Linked DNA regions of Homo sapiens: region 1 is linked to region 2. Evidence: fine-mapped expression QTL. A gene starts in region 2. The other region holds a variant in brackets. All regions are shown on one strand. Distances are from middle to middle. Region 1 overlaps SPMIP3 (sperm microtubule inner protein 3). Region 2 holds the start of ADSS2 (adenylosuccinate synthase 2).

What was found.
Region 1: its variant is fine-mapped to the expression of ADSS2 in sun-exposed skin (GTEx, PIP above 0.99).

The regions. Positions count from the first base shown.
Region 1 is chr1:244,365,612-244,374,136 of GRCh38, forward strand. The region is part of intron 2 of SPMIP3 (sperm microtubule inner protein 3); the gene reads left to right. Among named protein-coding and RNA genes, the nearest start is that of SPMIP3, 17 kb to the left of the region's middle. The variant C/T (reference allele first, on the strand shown) is at 4,024.
Region 2 is chr1:244,448,387-244,456,386 of GRCh38, forward strand. ADSS2 (adenylosuccinate synthase 2) reads right to left here and starts at 3,523. Exons shown (of 13, transcript NM_001126.5): 1 at 3,249-3,523. The coding sequence starts at 3,431. It also overlaps a transcript of CATSPERE not described here. RefSeq lists silencers at 2,703-2,982, 3,423-3,912.

The DNA of each region.
Region 1 (8,525 bases), 83 kb before region 2:
GGTTAATCAGAAGCCAACATGGTGAATTAGCATCCAACATAGAGTTGCTCTAGCCTCCACATTGGGTTTAGGGAAAGTTGTAAGAAAAAGAAGCCTCACACTCACTGCAGAATCCAAGCAAACAGGCAACTCCAAATTCCCAAAAGACCAGAAGGATATTGGTTTTTGCTTGGGAAGAGCTTTAGTGAGAAGTCTGAGCAATCCAAGCCCACATTTTGGATTGGACCATTTTACTCTGCTTGTGGGAAAACAAACTGCTCCTGTGCTTCCTCTGATGAGAGCTGACGGCACAGATGGAAACTAAGGAGCTGTTTCGCTCTTTCTTCAAGGTCCTCTATGGCACAAGAATAACAAGCCCTAGATCTGTCTTGTTGTGCTAAATTTGGTATCAGATGACAGTCCGTAAATCCTAACCCCACTCCCCCTTCACCACCTCGACGGGTCTGCAGCAGTGTAGTAGCTATAAATTTGTGACAGCAACCTCACACCATGACATGGGGGTCAGCCTCCTGTAGCCCCGTTGGCTTTGTGGCTTTGAGCAAGCCTCGTGTTTAGTTTATTTTATTTTTATTTATTTATTAGAGACAAAGTCTGGCTCTGTTGCCCAGGCTGGAGTGAAGTGGCTGGATCATAGCTCAGTCCAACTTCAAACTCCTGGGCTCAACTGATCTTCCTGCTGCCTTAGTCTCCTGAGTAGCTAGGGCTACAAGCTGCCTGGCTAATTTTTAAATTTTTTGTAGAGACCAGGTCTCACTATGTTGCCCAGACTGTCTGGAACTCCTGGCCTCAAGCAGTCCTCCCACTTGGTATCACAAAGTGTGGGATTATGGGTGTGAGCCACAACACCCAGCCTCATGTTTATTTTAATATTGAGTTATTTTAGCCATGTTTGGTCAACAAAAGAGAAGTCCTTCTTCCAGAAACTACAGAAGGAGTGAATGGATGGATGTGTCCTTCCTGGCTACATCTTAAGAATTTTCTTTTAAGACCTGATGCAGTGGCTCGTGCCTGTAATCCCAGCACTTTGGGAGGCCAAGGCGGGTGGATCACTTGAGGTCAGGAGTTCGAGACCAGCCTGGCCAACATGGTGAAACCCTGTCTCTACTAAAAATACAAAAATTAGCCAGGCGTGGTGGCACACACCTGGAATCCCAGCTACTCGGGAAGCTGAGGCAGGAGAATCGCTTGAACCCAGGAGGCAGAGGTTGCGATGAGCCGAGATCGCACTACTGCACTCCAGTGTGGGCAACAGAATGAGACTCTGTCTCAAAAAAAAGAAAGAAAGAAAAACTAAACAGATAGAATAATTGGAAGTTGTGATAAAGGAAATGAAAAAGGGTGTGAGGGAGAATAATCAGGTGGAGAGGTAGGCAGAAGGAGAATACCTTCTCTAGCCAGGGTGTTCAGGGAACAGCTCTCTCAGCAGTTGTCAGCCGAGCATGATGCTGGGTGATAGGGGCAGGGGGTGGGAGAAGGGTGCGGTCTAGGGAGGAGGAAGTGCAGGTCCAAAATCCCTGATTCATGAAAGAAGCCATGACATGATGACACAGGGGCTGGAGCTGGGAGAAGGTTGGGACGGTAGAGGCAGGAGAAGTTCCCGGAGGGCTTTGTGGCCTACAATAGTGAGTCTGGGTTTTATGCTATTATACATGCAATGGGTTGAAGGGTTTTATGCAATGGAGGGCCCTGATCCGATTTACTTTTATGAAGCTCACTCTGAGAACAGATTGTCTGAGGACAAGAGTGGGGGTTATTGCAGAGAGCAGGGGGAGGCAATGGTGAGCTGGACCAAGGGGTGGCCGTGGGCTGGAGAAGCCGTCCCATGGGAGATCCAGCCTGGAGGGGGAATGCACGGACTTGCTGATTGGACCCACAGGTCAGGAGAGGCACACAGAGCTGCCTCACGGTGCGCACTATGGGCGGAGGGTGGGGGCAACAAGACTAGTTCAGGTGCAGGAAGAGCCGGAGCCGTCAGTGTGCCCCCCAACCCACGTGCGGCTCGGAGGACAAGCCCCAGAGAGCAGAAGACAGCCCAGCCTTAGGCCTCCAGGGGCCCCAGGGCCTGCTGTGCTCAGTTCCACCCAAACCCCCGGACTCCCGGCCAGGTCCAGACACCACAGAGCACTAGGCAGGAGTGGCCAATGGAGGTTTGTTTCCATTTTCCCCAGATAAGACCACAGTTAAATAGGCCTCTCAGTGAACAAAACAGATCTCAAACACACACAGAAAGAGCAAACGCTGTGGGGAGACAATCAGGAAATACTGGAGCCAACTCCATTCCTCTCTCCCCTGCTTCCTCCTCATCCGGGTTTCAGGAAGGAAAGGTTTTTGGTTTTTTGTTTTGTTTTGTTTTGTTTTTGTTTTTTTGAGACAAAGTCTTGCGCTGTCACCCAGGCTGGAGTGCAGTGGTATGATCTTGGTTCACTGCAACTTCTGCCTCCTGAGTTCAAGTGATTTTCATGCCTCAGCCTCTCGAGTGCTGGGACTACAGGCGCCCACCACCACACCTGGCTAATTTTTTATTTTTAGTAGAGACAAGGTTTCACCATGTTGGCCAGGCTGGTCTCGAACTCCTGACCTCAAATGATCCACTCAACTTGGCCTCCCAAAGTGCTGGGATTACAGGCTTGAGCCACTGCACCTGGCCTACTTTATCTGTTTCTTTATATCCTGCCTGTCTCACCCCCTGGAATAATAATGGTAAACACTTCTGAAGCTCTTACTCTGTGCCAAGCACTGTTCTAGGTGCATCTGAACTCCTTTAACCTTCACTACTGTGAGTTTCATATGAGGAAACCAAGGCACGGTGTGGTTAAATGACTGCCCCAGATCCCACAGCTACTGACTGGCGGACATGGGACTTAAACTCACGTCTGTGCTTGTGGTCACTGCATTTTGCCACATCTCCAGGTTAGCCCTCCAGGCAGGGCTTACTTCCCTTTCTCTGCAACTCACTATCATGACCTCTGCCTTGCAGATTACCATTCCTGGTAGGCCCTGTAGGCACGGTTGTTGAAAATATTGAAATGAATGAGTGAGCAAAGTTATCCAATCGTTTATGTGTGGTGTGTACCCCTGGTGACTGATGGCACCTGAGCCTGCCCTTGTGTGGTTCTGCACAAGCATGTATCCAATTCATCCTTAAATGGCCAAGCCTCAGAGCTACGCTACAGAAAACTGAGGTTTTGGGACACTAAATAAAAGTAAATATTAAATGGTTCACACTTAGTAGTGGCCACATAAAATTCTTGTATTCATCATCATATTGGCCGGGTGCGGTGGCTGACGCCAGTGATCCCAGCACTATGGCAGGCGAGGCAGGCGGATCATGAGGTCAAAAGATTGAGACCATCCTGGCCAACATGGTAAAACCCCGTCTCTACTAAAAATACAAAAAATTAGCAGGGCGTGATGGCACACACCTGTAGTCCCAGCCTCTCGGGAGGCTGAGGCAGGAGAATTGCTTGAACCTGGGAAGGCAGAGGTGGCAGTGAGCCAAGATTGCACCACTGCACTCCAGCCTGGCGACAGAGCCAGACTCCGTCTCAAAAAAAAAAATCATATTATATGCAACTGTTTACTGGTGCCATCCCCTGGCTACAGGCTGGAGGCCTGTCACTCAGAGAAGGGCTGGGTGTGGCATTGGTTTGTGGAACCCAGGATACTCCTGAAAAGATCACTTTAAGTGGATTAAATTCAGTGTGTTGTAGAAGATCGAAGATACAGAATTTGTGTGTGATTTAAATAGACTTTTAAAACTTTGATCGAAACAGTCTCTGAAGATCCAGAGGCAACTGTGTGGTCAGCCCATCCTGCGTGGGATGATATTGGAGCAGCGTCATTTCTCTGGGGTACAACCCGTGGTTCATTGCCACACGCCAAAGAAATCAAGGACGTGAACACACAAGGAGTGAGGTTAAGAGCGGAGGTTTAATAGGCTAAAGAAAGAGAAAATCTCTCTCTTACAGAGAGAGGGAGTCGCAGTGGGTCTTCTGGTCCCTGGTGAAGTGCAGGTTTTATAAC[C/T]GAGCTTGAGGAGGTGGTGTCTGATTTACATAGGGCACGAAAGATTGGTTGGACCAGGTGTGCCATTTGCATAACGTGAGAAGAACTGGTTAGGACTAGGTGTGGTGTTTGCATAATGTGGGAAGAACTGGTTAGGACTAGGTGTGCTGTTTGCATGGCACGTGAAGAAGCTGGCCGCCCCACCCTAATCTTTTATTATGTAGATGGGTTCTCTGCCTAGCCGGGTCACGTTCAGTTGCCTGTTTTTGTTTGTACTATACACGTGGTGACAGAGAAAGGGGAAGATGGCGCCTCCATGTTGAACATGCTGGCCCTCAGGTAGCCCTTTTCTATGGGCACAGCTGCCAGCATTCACCCACACAAGTTTCCAGCTTGCTTATTCATGTCTGCAGCATGATTTTACAGGCTACTCTTTGTTAGAAAATAAATGACTTTGGGGCTGCTTTTTGTTAAAAGGGAAATTCCGCCGAGGACTCTGTTGCCCTTTCCATCTGCCTAAATAATTTCCATCTCCTGTATCAATACCAACACCTTGGGAGATGTTAGCCACCAAGTACAAATGTCTCGTTTACTCTCATGCAATCATTAAAGGAGAAGACAGTATCATTCCCATTTTACTGATGAGGAAACTGAGGCTCCCCACTCCCTTGAGGAGATTCTTGTGGAGCCGGCAGAGCCTGGGAGATGAGGGCACAGGTCTGGAGGCTTCCTAGTCCTTCCTTTAGTTCTGTCTTCTGGACTTACTAGCTCATGTCCTTAGCTAAGTTATTTACTTCCCCTGAGCCTCAGTTTCTTATCAGGCGTAGCACTCACCACATCGTCTGTGATTAGATAGTTGCCTAAACGTGGCTTTCCTGACCAGATTATGAACTCTTGAGTGGAAAGACAACATTGTCATCACTGTATCCCTAGTGCCTAGCCCACTGGAGGCACAGCAGAGCTTGCAGTGAGTGCTTTTCGTTGAGTTAAAAGCATCTTCCAGCTAACACTGCTGTGTCTTTATGGCTTTTCCTATTTTTTAGTGTACAATGTCTATTTGCTGTCTGCCCCAAAATGAGAGAATCACAGAGTTTGTATGAAAATAGCACTGAATTCTTATTAAAACAAATCATCACACATACCCTCGGGTGGCAGAATAGCGACATGGAGTTTGGAGAACTGGGTTTGATACACGGCGCTGGCATTTACTTGTTTAAGTGGACTTTACTACTTAAAAAGTCCACTTAACCCTTCTGAGACTTGGGCTATTCTTATAAAGCAGAGAGTTAATCATGTTTACCTTGCAAGGTGACTGTGAGGATTAAGTGAGATCATTTCTGTAAAAATGCTCTGTAGAGGATGAGCCCCAGCAGGGCCGTAACAGAGAAGAGCGTGGTCACAGGAACACAGGCTACCTGGGGCTGTGGGGCCAGGCTCTGGAGGGACCGACACCTCTGGCCTCTCCTATAGATATTGAATTTTGACTGTGGCTAAGCCCAGATCCCACTCCATTTACAGCCACCCTCCCAGGGAACAGGTTTGCTCTCATGTGGACTGAATACATCACCTCAAAAAGCCAAGCCATCAGGGACTCAAAATCACGCACGGTGCCTGCACCTGCCCAGTGAGAAGGAAAGGGCTTTCTACAGCTGGTTAAAACCCGGGTTCAACAGAATCACTCTGAGCAGAGCCCTGAGCTGGGCTGGCCTCCACAGCCAAGTCTGAAGAGTCCGCACGTGCTTTCACAATCATTCACTGAGGCCGGGTAATGCACAGCCTCTGGCCTGGCTAGACATTTCCCCTTAGGAGGTCAAAACTCTCTTCTCCACCCAGCCATCCCTCTCTCCACACCCATCTCCTTACACACACCTTCCCATTTTCTTTTCACTCCTCCCAAAACCTGCCAAGAGACACTGCCAAGGGGCGGTGGCAGGGAGGATTACTTGGTGCTGGTGCTGGGATTCTTTATCCTCAAATCAGCTTTTACTGACTGCTTCTAAGGAGCAGCGCTGAGTTTACTCACCTGTATTCAGCAGGTGTTTGTTTGTATGCACGCCATGGTCAAAACCCAGCCCACCGCCCACAGCCCAGCAACTGTAGAAACCAGCATCCTTTAGGTGGGTTCTTAAACTGTAATGTGGCCCTGGGGTAATATTCCAAGGTGGTGCTTCAGAAAATGGATAGGTGCCTAAGAAAGCTACGTGTCCCACCCCTGTGCATTCAGAAATGTCATTTGTTCCCTTTATTGTGCCAGTTCCTCTCTCTTCTTATGACTTAATACCCCATTGTTATTTACCATCCAGGGCTCAGTCATATTATCCCAGCCACTGGGCAGGCCCAGACAGCCTGTGGTTTTTCTGCAAATCAGAGCTCCCAGAGGTCGTCTTTGCACAGACAGAGACAGAACTCGCCCTGCTCAGTGCTTGCCTTTCATGCTAGACAGTCAGGCCCACTCTAGCCCTCATACACTCCACTCAGAACCTAATTCTGTCCATGTCTTGGCCCCTATAATTCCCTTTGCTTGGAATCTCTTCCCCAACCCCTTTGCTTATCCGAGTCCTAGATCTAGATACTCCTCCCTCTTCTGTGTCCTATGGACCCTTTATTCAGATCACTATTTCAGCATGTGAAGAGCTTTTTGAGGACAAGCGCTGCTTCTTAGTCAGCTTTGTATCTGCAGAGCCTAGCATAGTGCAGGGTGTTTTGTGTGCATTCAATAAATGTTGGTTGAGTCGAACTGAAGGCATAGTTTCAGTTTTCATCCATTATCTAACACATATTTAGTGAGATACGTTATGCAAAATGATGTGCTACTTTCTACTGACTCTGAATTTTTTTTTTTTTTTTTGAGATGGAGTCTCACTCTGTCCCCCAGGCTGGAGTGCAGTGGCACGATCTCAGCTCACTGCAAGCCCCACCTTCCAGGTTCACACCATTCTCCTGCCCCAGCCTCCCAAATAGCTGGGACTACAGGTGCCCGCCACCACACCTGGCTAATTTTTTGTATTTTTAGTAGAGACTGGGTTTCACCGCGTTAGCCAGGATGGTCTCGAACTCCTGACCTTGCGATCCGCCCGCCTTGGCCTCCCAAAGTGCTGGGATTACAGGCGCGAGCCCAGCCTCCTGACTTTGAATTTTTATGGCATCTACTGACTGCTCAGAATCTGTGGGACATCCCGAAAGACCCCACATGTCCAGGCATCACAAACTCAATAAAGTCACCTTCCCAATGATGGCCATTTATTGTGTTCCCTCTCTTGGGGAAAGGCAGGATTCTTTCCAATGCCTGAAGATGCAGCTTTGTCTTGGACACTTCCCTGTCTTTTACCCTCCATCCTATCTCCTAAAATATCCTCAATCAGCCCTATCCTCTCCATCCACATTTCCATCATATCAGAGCTTCGTCATGTCCCACATAAAGCACTACAATCACTTCCTAAGCAGTCTTTCTGCTTTTAGTCACATGGTCTTCAAATTTGTTTTCTGGCTGGGTGCAGCGGCTCGCACCTGCAATCCCAGCACTTCGGGAGGTCAAGGCGGGAGAATCACTTGAGCCCAGGAGTTCCAGACCAGGCTGGGCAACATAATGAGACCCTGTCTTTTAAAAAAAATGGTTTTCCACATTGCCATCAAAAAAGATCTTTCTCTACCATGTCATGAACCTTGTTAAACATCTCACAAAGTAGCCTGGGCAACATAGTGAAACTACAAAAAAAAATTATATATATATATATATGCATGCCAGGCATATGGTACATGCCTGTAGTCCCTCCCAGCTACTTAGGAAGCTGAAACAGGAGGATCTCTGGATCCCAGGAGTTAGAGGCTACAGTGAGCTATGATCACACTGCACTATAGCCTGGGCAACAGTGAGACTCCATCTCTAAAAGCAAACAAAACAAACAACAGCAAACCTCACAAAGATTCCTATCACCTCCATCAGTAGTTCTCAAACTTTCAGACACAATACCCCCTTTTTAATAATAGATATTTTGTAATATCTCTGCTATTCTTCTGAAATAAAATCTGTAAATAATATAAACCAACCACATATAATTTAAAAATATTAGGTTGGTGCAAAAGTAATTGCAGTTTTTGCCATTGAAAGTAAAGTCATAGCAAAAACCGCAATTACTTTTACACCAACCTATCTCATTACAGTCTTATAACTATAATATAAAAGGAAAAGCAATGTACTATAAAATGAGACATATTTCTGGCCGGGTGCAGTGGCTCATGCCTGTAATCCCAGCACTTTGGGAGGCCAAGGTGGGCGGATCACTTGAGGCCAGGAGTTTGAGACCATCCTAGCCACCATGGTGAAACCCATCTCTTCTAAAAATACAAAAATTAGCCCGGTGTGGTGGCAGGCACCTGTAATTCCAGCTACTCGGGAGGCTGAGGCAGGAGAATCACTTGAACTCAGGAGGCGGAGGTTGCAGTGAGCTGAGATTGGGCCACTGCACTCCAGCCTGGGCGACAGAGTGAGACTCCGTCTCAAAATAAATAAATAAATACAATAA
Region 2 (8,000 bases):
ATAGCAAGCTTTTATAAACATATATCAAGTGATGGGGTGTGCTTTCCCTTATGACTAACTTTAGTATTTTCTCTTTTTATTGACTTTGAAGCCTTGGAGAGAATACACACGGAACACTGCTCTAGCCTTTCCCGATCACAGGCAACTTCATGTGTGTCATTATAACCAAGACCACCGAAGTTACTTTCCTCAAGAACAATAAATAAGTAAGCCTTTGCTTAAAGCCTGGTATAAACTACTATAGTTAAGAAGTTTCTGTAGCTTCTACTCAGCAAAATACAGAAAACAAAGCACAGTATTTTACTTTGAGAGAACTGGGGAAAAAACAGTATTAGGCTTCCTTTTGTGATGCCAGAAAGGGACTTTCTTGGTCCCATACTTTAACCTCTTGAGAAACGTATTAGACTAGTACCTTTCTCCATCCCGACCTTCTCAACACTTTTGCTTACACAGCAGTTGTCCCCCAGATTGTGAGCTCCTTGTGGGCACAATCCCTGCCTTTTTCAGATTTTTGACTCCCAGGCTAAGTGATCCCCTGCAGATACTCAATGTTTACTAGATGAATGACCTGTACCCAGGGTTGGGCCTCTATTTAATTCTTCTCTCTTCTTCTTAAAATAAATATTGATTTAAAATTAAGGCAGCAGTAGTGGTTGTCCTTTGATGCAAGTCCTACATATTTATGGATCTGGGGAACCTACCAAGTTATAAATAACTCCCCATAAATCCTGAATCTGAACAACACAGGCCTTAAGCGCTGTTAAGAGTGAAAACGCCACTAGGTTTGCATCTATTGTTTCCAAAAAGGCATTTTATACATTAAAATTTATCATTAAATGCAATGCCAGTTTTTCTTTTTAAAACTATATTTTATGTTGGGAGAAAGTCCTTATGAGTCTACTGGTGAAATACGGATACATTATGTGTACATCACTTCTGGAGAAACAGTACTGAATAAAATTTGAACTCATGACATAAATATGGCAGAATATATTAAACTCTAACAAAGGACATATTTTCACTAACACACAAAACTTAAGACATCAAACAAGGCAATCCAAGCTCACAATGTCTTACTGTTGATTTTTTCCAGCTCTCTATACACACTCACTAAGAACTTCAACATTCCAATTTTATAACCTAGGGGAACTTCATTAAGTAGATGCCAGCTTACTAGGGCTAACCAAATAATACAAAGTTACCAAGGTAAATCACAAAAGAGATAATGCTTAAATCTATTCATTACTCATCTATTTTTTGCTAACAAGACTAATAAAGAATCCTAATGATACACTTTTAAAAAGCACTAAAAGAACATAAGGATTCTATAAGGAAGGTAGTTAAGTCAAAAATACACAGGTGAGGGAAGTCTGCCCAACAAGGCCCCTCATTTGTTTCTCCACTATCTTCAGCTAACATTTTAAAGCCAAACTTAGTTCCTTCTCAATCACTTCTCTAGCCTTTCCAAGGGCATCAGATCAGGTTGGTCCATGACTTCAAGACTACTTTCTCGGTAACATTAGTAACACCTTCTCCAAGCTACAAACTACTTCTAATATTTCTCCATAGAATATTAAAATTGAGGATCCTTTAGAATAAATACCATAATGGTTGTGTTCTCCAAACCTTCTTACAACCCATAGTGTAGCTCAACCTGAGCTATTTCCATATTAACGAGATGTCAAGATGTCAGTGAAGGAGACACACAGGCCTCAGCCTCTCTCCCGCTGTCGACAGCAAGAAAGCTCGGTATTCGGATACGTCTTCCCCACAGCATGACCAGATCTGAATGTAAGACAAAAGGTAGGTAAAGGCTGGATTTCTGGAGTATTTCCTAAGAAAGTGCGGGGCAGGAATTTAATGGCAACACCCTGAAGATTGCTAAGGTACAAAGTGTGTTGCCAGAGGGGTGGAGAAATAATAGGCTGGAAGGGAAGGAGGGAGAGGTGGTAGTGACAGTTTCCTAAGAGGCAATTAGTGCAACAGCTATTTCAGAATGGGCAGGGTGGATTTCTAAATGAAAACAAAACAAAACGAAACAAGGTAAATCAGAGAATATTTGCAGTATTTGCATTTAGCTTTTTAACATACCTGTGATTTCATTGTTTCTGCATGCTCAAAATGGTATTCAAGGGGGCCTATAACTTACTAGAACATATACAGCATGGCACCATCATATCATGCCATGCATGTTCAAAAACAAATATTCTTGCAACCTAAACAGATAGCAGTTAACTTCAAATATTACATTATGCTTTGTTTTGAAAGTGGTTATTGCTCATCTGCTTAGAATTTTGAAACTGGAGAGAGTTATCTGAGAGCCTTTACAAAGGCCTTACCCTGTATGCTGCGTCAAAGGAAACGACAAATAGGAAGAAAGGTTACACTGAAAACCACGTGTCTCCCGTTAGAAGTACATTACCACCTCGTTTTCCGAAAGTTCACTTTCGATGTCACCTTAACAATGCAAATATTTATTTCCAAATACTCAATTTGACATCCATGTATTTACTTCCCTCACTTTTTTTGAACAGAGAAGGGATTCCTTCCTCTGGGACCAACTAGTAAAAGTAATTTCTCCTTAACTTTCATGTATGGAGCACACTGTAAAAACAAAAACAAAAACAAGAAACTCAGGGCCCTAAAACAACAGTCCAAAGCCCAGAGGTGGGTGGGTTTGGATGTCAACAAAGTGGACCAGAGGAAGCAAAGCACTGCATGCCACGGTCCTGCAGATGGGGGATCGGTGAGTCTGATTTCAGGACGTTTCGAAACAATCCACTCCCACTCCGCCGCCCTGGGCGGGGCGGGGGGGCGGTGATGGGGGGTTCTGCCGTCGCGCCGGGTCTCCGCCCGCAGTCGGAAGAGTTGGGAGCAGGCCTCGGGCGGTAGCTCCTCAAACTCGGACCGCATCCCACCTCCACCCCGGCCTCAGTCCCGGCGCTGAGCACCACTCGCCAGACGCAAAACTGCAACTGCCAGGCATCGCGCATCTCTCAAAGGCTCCCCGCCAGCCCACCTCTTCCTCCAGGGCCACCCCAAGTTTCACCCGACGCTCCAGGTCAGGGGTCCCCGACCTCCCGCCATTTCTCCACGTAGCCGCAGCTCAGGACAGGAGGAGAGAGCCTCAAGGTGACACCTCATTTTGGCCAGTGGATCCGGGTTCTGGGTCCGAGTTCCCGGGCACCAGGAGCCAGGCAGCCCGAGCTCCCGGGCCCGGCTTCCCATGAGAGGCCCCGTCGCCTCACCTGGCAGCGGCACACGATGTCGGCGTCCTGCGCCAGCAGGTCCACCACCTTCCCTTTGCCTTCGTCGCCCCACTGCGCACCGAGCACCACCGTCACCCGGTTTCCTCCGGGCCGCGCCCTGGGGCGGCCGCAATCGCCGTTGGGCAGGGAGGATGCCGCCGGGTAGGTCTCGGCGAACGCCATGGCTCCAGTGACGCGAGGAGAGCCCGAAGGAGAGGCGGCCGGCGAGGAGTGAGCGAACTGAACTGCTCTGCGGCCGCCAGCCACATGCAGAGGAAGAAGGAGCCAGAGGCCGGCCCCGCCCCCGCCCCGCCGGGCCGCCACCCTCCAGCCAGTCCCCGCCCCGCTCTCCGCCACAGCCCGCTCAAGGGGGTACCATGACTGCCCCGCGCAGGCCGGCCTCGGCAGCACCGCCCGCAGGAAGAGGCCCTGGTGGCGGCAACGGCCGCCACCCCGGACCGAGGCCACGCCCCTTCCGCGGCCTGGCGCGCCACTCCCGTGCAAACCTCGCGAGCGGAAAAGGTCAGGGGCGGGGCTTCGAGAGCGCTTCTCCTTCAGCACCCCGCCTACCCGCTCTACCTCTCGCTTTCAAACTGGAGAGGCGCGGAAGCGCGTGTGGAGCGTCGGACTACAAATCCCAGCATGCAACGCTCTGGGCTGCGGCGGTGTATTCTGGGGCCACTGTGTCTGCCATCTGCAGGTTTGTCTGGATTTGTCTTTATTAAGGAATGAATGTGTACAAAATACAAACTGTGGAATTTCGCAGTACAAACAGCATAAAATCGGAACGTGTAAGTGTAGAATTGGAAATTAAAAGTCCGGAAGTAACAGAGATGGGGACAGGGATCAAAAAAGACAAAATTCAAAAGTAAGGCAATAAGATAAAGGACATGAGACCTGAAATCAATAGATCAAATAAAGTCCTAATCCTCATTTTACATAGTAGTAACAAAGGCTCAGAGAGGAGGAGTGGATTACCTATGTCGCATATAGTACATATATGCAGATACCGTCATGCACTTCTTTATTTTTTAATCCCCACAACCATATAAGGTAGGTGATCCTCTATTATCCTTATTTTACAGGATTTAAAAGCTGGGTAACTTGCCCTAGTGAGGCTTGAATTGGTACTTCGATAATCTAAGTCCAGAGCCCATGTCCTTCCTGTAGATTCCACTGTCTCTCAGTTACATTTGTAACTAGATTCTGGTGTATACCTACTGTTCATCTAATGCCCTTTCGACACCAACACAAATTAACTATGATGTTTAATTCTGATAAAAGGTGCTTCGAAAAAAAGTGGGAATGGAATCACATTATATGTACCGTCTCCCAAATCGCCTGTACATACTGTATGTTCACTAATGGTCCCTAGAGTACACTTTAGTATTTTATTTCTAGTCAATGAGTTAAGTCAGGAACATTGAGAACCTGCTATTAACTAACTAAGTGTCCTGGGCACTGATAACATAGGAGAAATAAAGATACAATTCAGCCCTCAAGGATTCAAATTATTTGGTCTATTGATTAGTAAACAATTATAATACTATGTGATAATTGTTGTCTATCTTGGCCTTATTACAAGATCACAAACATTTTGGAAACAAGAATGCCATCTATTTCTTTCTAGTCAAATGCCCGAGGTAGTGTTGGGCAGATAGTAGATACTGAATAAGCACACCTTACTAGTCATTTCCATTCAATTTTTTAAAATCATTTATGGGAGACTGATTTGAGTAATAATAAAACTCTGGTTTCCTGCACAGCCAGCTCTACATGAATTACTCTTTCTCTATTGCCATTTGCCTGTCTTGATGAATTGGCTCTGTCTAGGCAGTGGACAAGGTGAACCCCTTGGGCGGTTACAAATTTGGGGGCTTGTCTGGCATTGCCTTTGTGGCTACCTACTCGTGGTTCAGTGGCCCCCCTCCAGCAATGGATCCAGAAGCCTGCCCAAGCGGCCACCCAGTTCTCTTGGACTGGGGGCTGACTCTGGTACTCTCTCTACTGGTGGGGTGCTGCCAACCCAGTGTGCATGGATTTAATTGCAATGGAGAAATAGCCCCGGGGAGACGTCCCTTAACTGTAACCCTATCACAGGGTGTCTGTCTGTAGCCCCATTGCAGGGCAGGGTGTCTGGATTGGTGAGTATCCTAGGTGCTGCCAACGCCTCCTTTCTCCCAACTGGTTCTGTAGCCCTATGGTGAGGTGTCTGTAGCCCCATTGCAGGGTGTCTGTTCGGCTCCTGGGGGGGTCTCATTTGGCTCTTTCTAACTAGTAGGAAGAGTCCAGGTTTGGGAGACTTCTCCTGAATCAGGAAGATTTCAAGGAGGTTTCTCAGAAGGAGAATAGGAGGATAGTTTGGAAGGGATACTCCCGGAGTTCTTGGTTAGGGATCTGATTGGGAACGCCTTCTGTCCTCTCGTCTTTGTGTGCGTTTGTATATGTGGAAGGGATCTCAGAAGAGGTTGCTGATGGAAGTCCAGCAGACCTAACTCAAAACCCTCCTTATTTGTCTGGTCACATTTGATGAGCCCTACAGAAGGCTCAACAGGCCTGTCTCGGGGTGACTATCTGCTCTTCGTCTTGCCCAGAGACCCCATTGTGAATTACCGTTCGGAGGTCATCCCTCCCCACCTGGAGTGGATCAAAGACAACAGGGACCAAAGAGAAAAAGTTTTTGAGCTTTGCCAGGCTGATATTGGGAGCTGAACGAGGTGGCTAATGTGTGTTTTGTTATGTGTGTTTTGCTGGGATGGAAAATGTTAATTCGGTTCCCCATGCAGCCCGCTGGGCAGCATCTTGCAAATTAAGAATCTCGTCTATGTTTCCATAAAACAGTAAAGGGTGATTTTCTCTTGTAAAGTGGCTTGAACCCCACAGCTATAGCACAAGCAAGCAGGGTCATCAAAAGCCACTCCATTCTTCTGGAAACTGCAGAGAAAGGGAACCCGGAAATCTGGTATGCCGGCACAGAGGGTATGAAATTCTTACCGGACCGGTTTGTGGTCTCTCTCTCTCTTTCTCAGTAAATAGTAAACTGTTTACCTCCTCTGCAAGGGTTTGATAAATGGAAAAAAGGATTTGTGAGACTAGTCTTAGGCTGTAGCAAATCTGGTGTAGTTTTGTGCTAAGAATTTGTCTTTCTGTGTTCTGTAGTGGATAGATGGGTGTCACAGGATAGAACGTGGGTTTAGGACCCCTATAAGCCTGCTTTTCAAGCCGGCTTGGCAGGCTGGTCAGTTACAAACTTTGCTACAGGTCCCTGAAGCCAATACTGTATGAAATTTCTCTGTCTTGTTTTGTGTCCTGAAGAGCTTAACTTTGTGACCATGTGGAGATACTTTCTCTTGGTTTCCACCATCTAGAAGACAGGAATTTGGGGATTTTTAGGTTAGCCCTAAGAATTTTCTTGAGCAGTTAAAAGCCTTTGCAAGCTTGAAACTGGCTTCTGTAGGCTCCTTCTGGGAAGCACAATAGAAACTGCTCAATACTGTGTAACTCAGTAGCTAAGGTTTTGCCTCTTGACAGTGGGGGGTCTGGGTTCTATTCCTGGCTTCTGGAATGATTCCCTTCTGGTTTTTTATTTCTGTAACTTTGCCATTTATTGAGGTTCCCGCGTCCCCCCGCTCCCATGAATAGCTTCTGATTTCCTGTCTTGAATTTTCCTTTCTCTAAACTACCCTGGGGGAGATTCTACATCTTGTAGAAAAAAAAACTGCTTACCATCTCTTTGAGACACCTGTGTGTCCATGGTTATAAACTTAGTTAAAACTTAATTTCAGGTGGGAAGTTACCTGTGGTAGAATTCAAAAGCCAAAAATATTGGCCGCTTGGCGTGGCTAAAGTTGGGTATAAAATTTTTAAGGGTTTTTTTTTTTTTTTAAAGAGCGCTATGGTTAAAAGTCAGCTTAATTAAAAGTGGATAAACAAGCTGTAGGTATATTTAAAAGGCCTTTATGTTTCTCTCTTCTTGGATCTTGTTTTTCTGGAAAAAGATTATTTTTCTGGAAAAAGGTCTTTTTTTCCTTCTCAGTCAACTGAATTATTTTCCTCCACTTTTTTGTTTTGCCTATCTTAATGTACACATGAGAGGCCCTGAGATAGCTTCTGGTAGCCTGGGACTCCTTGGGAAAAACAGGAGGCACCACAGACCCCGTTTTGGAAAAAAGCTCTGTTTTCCTCATGAAACCCCAAGAATTAAAAGCAGACAGATCCCTCTCAAAATCCAAGGCTCTATTCTGTTTTGCATTGTGTTATCTGACGGTTTTGAGTTTTAGGGGCATCAGAAATTACTTCTCATTCTGAGAGAGCTTTGGTGTATAACAACTAGGTAGGAAATATACTTTAGGAGTTGGCTAATAGTAGTTACGGAGGCATACTTGGCTCTTCGCACACTTGGATCAGAGAAGCATGCTTTGGCCACCTGGAAGACATGGAAACACCCCCCCGCCCCCCAACAGAGAGATGAGAATCCCATGGGGGATGGTCTAATTACAAATGGACTGATTGGCTTTGGGTTGCGTTGCAGTGAAATGCATAGTTGGTAAAAGCACTGCACTGTCTTCTCTCGAAGTATTTCCGTCCTCTTGGGATCCAGGATCCAGTGTAAAGCGGCACCCTTAATTTTAAGAATCCGTCTTTGCCTTCAGCTGCTTGTTTGGCCCTAGAAACACAAGCTTTCCTAGCCCTGTTCCTCCAGGGGCTCCACCCTGAAGCCAGTAATCCAATTAAGAAACTGGCAAACAAAAA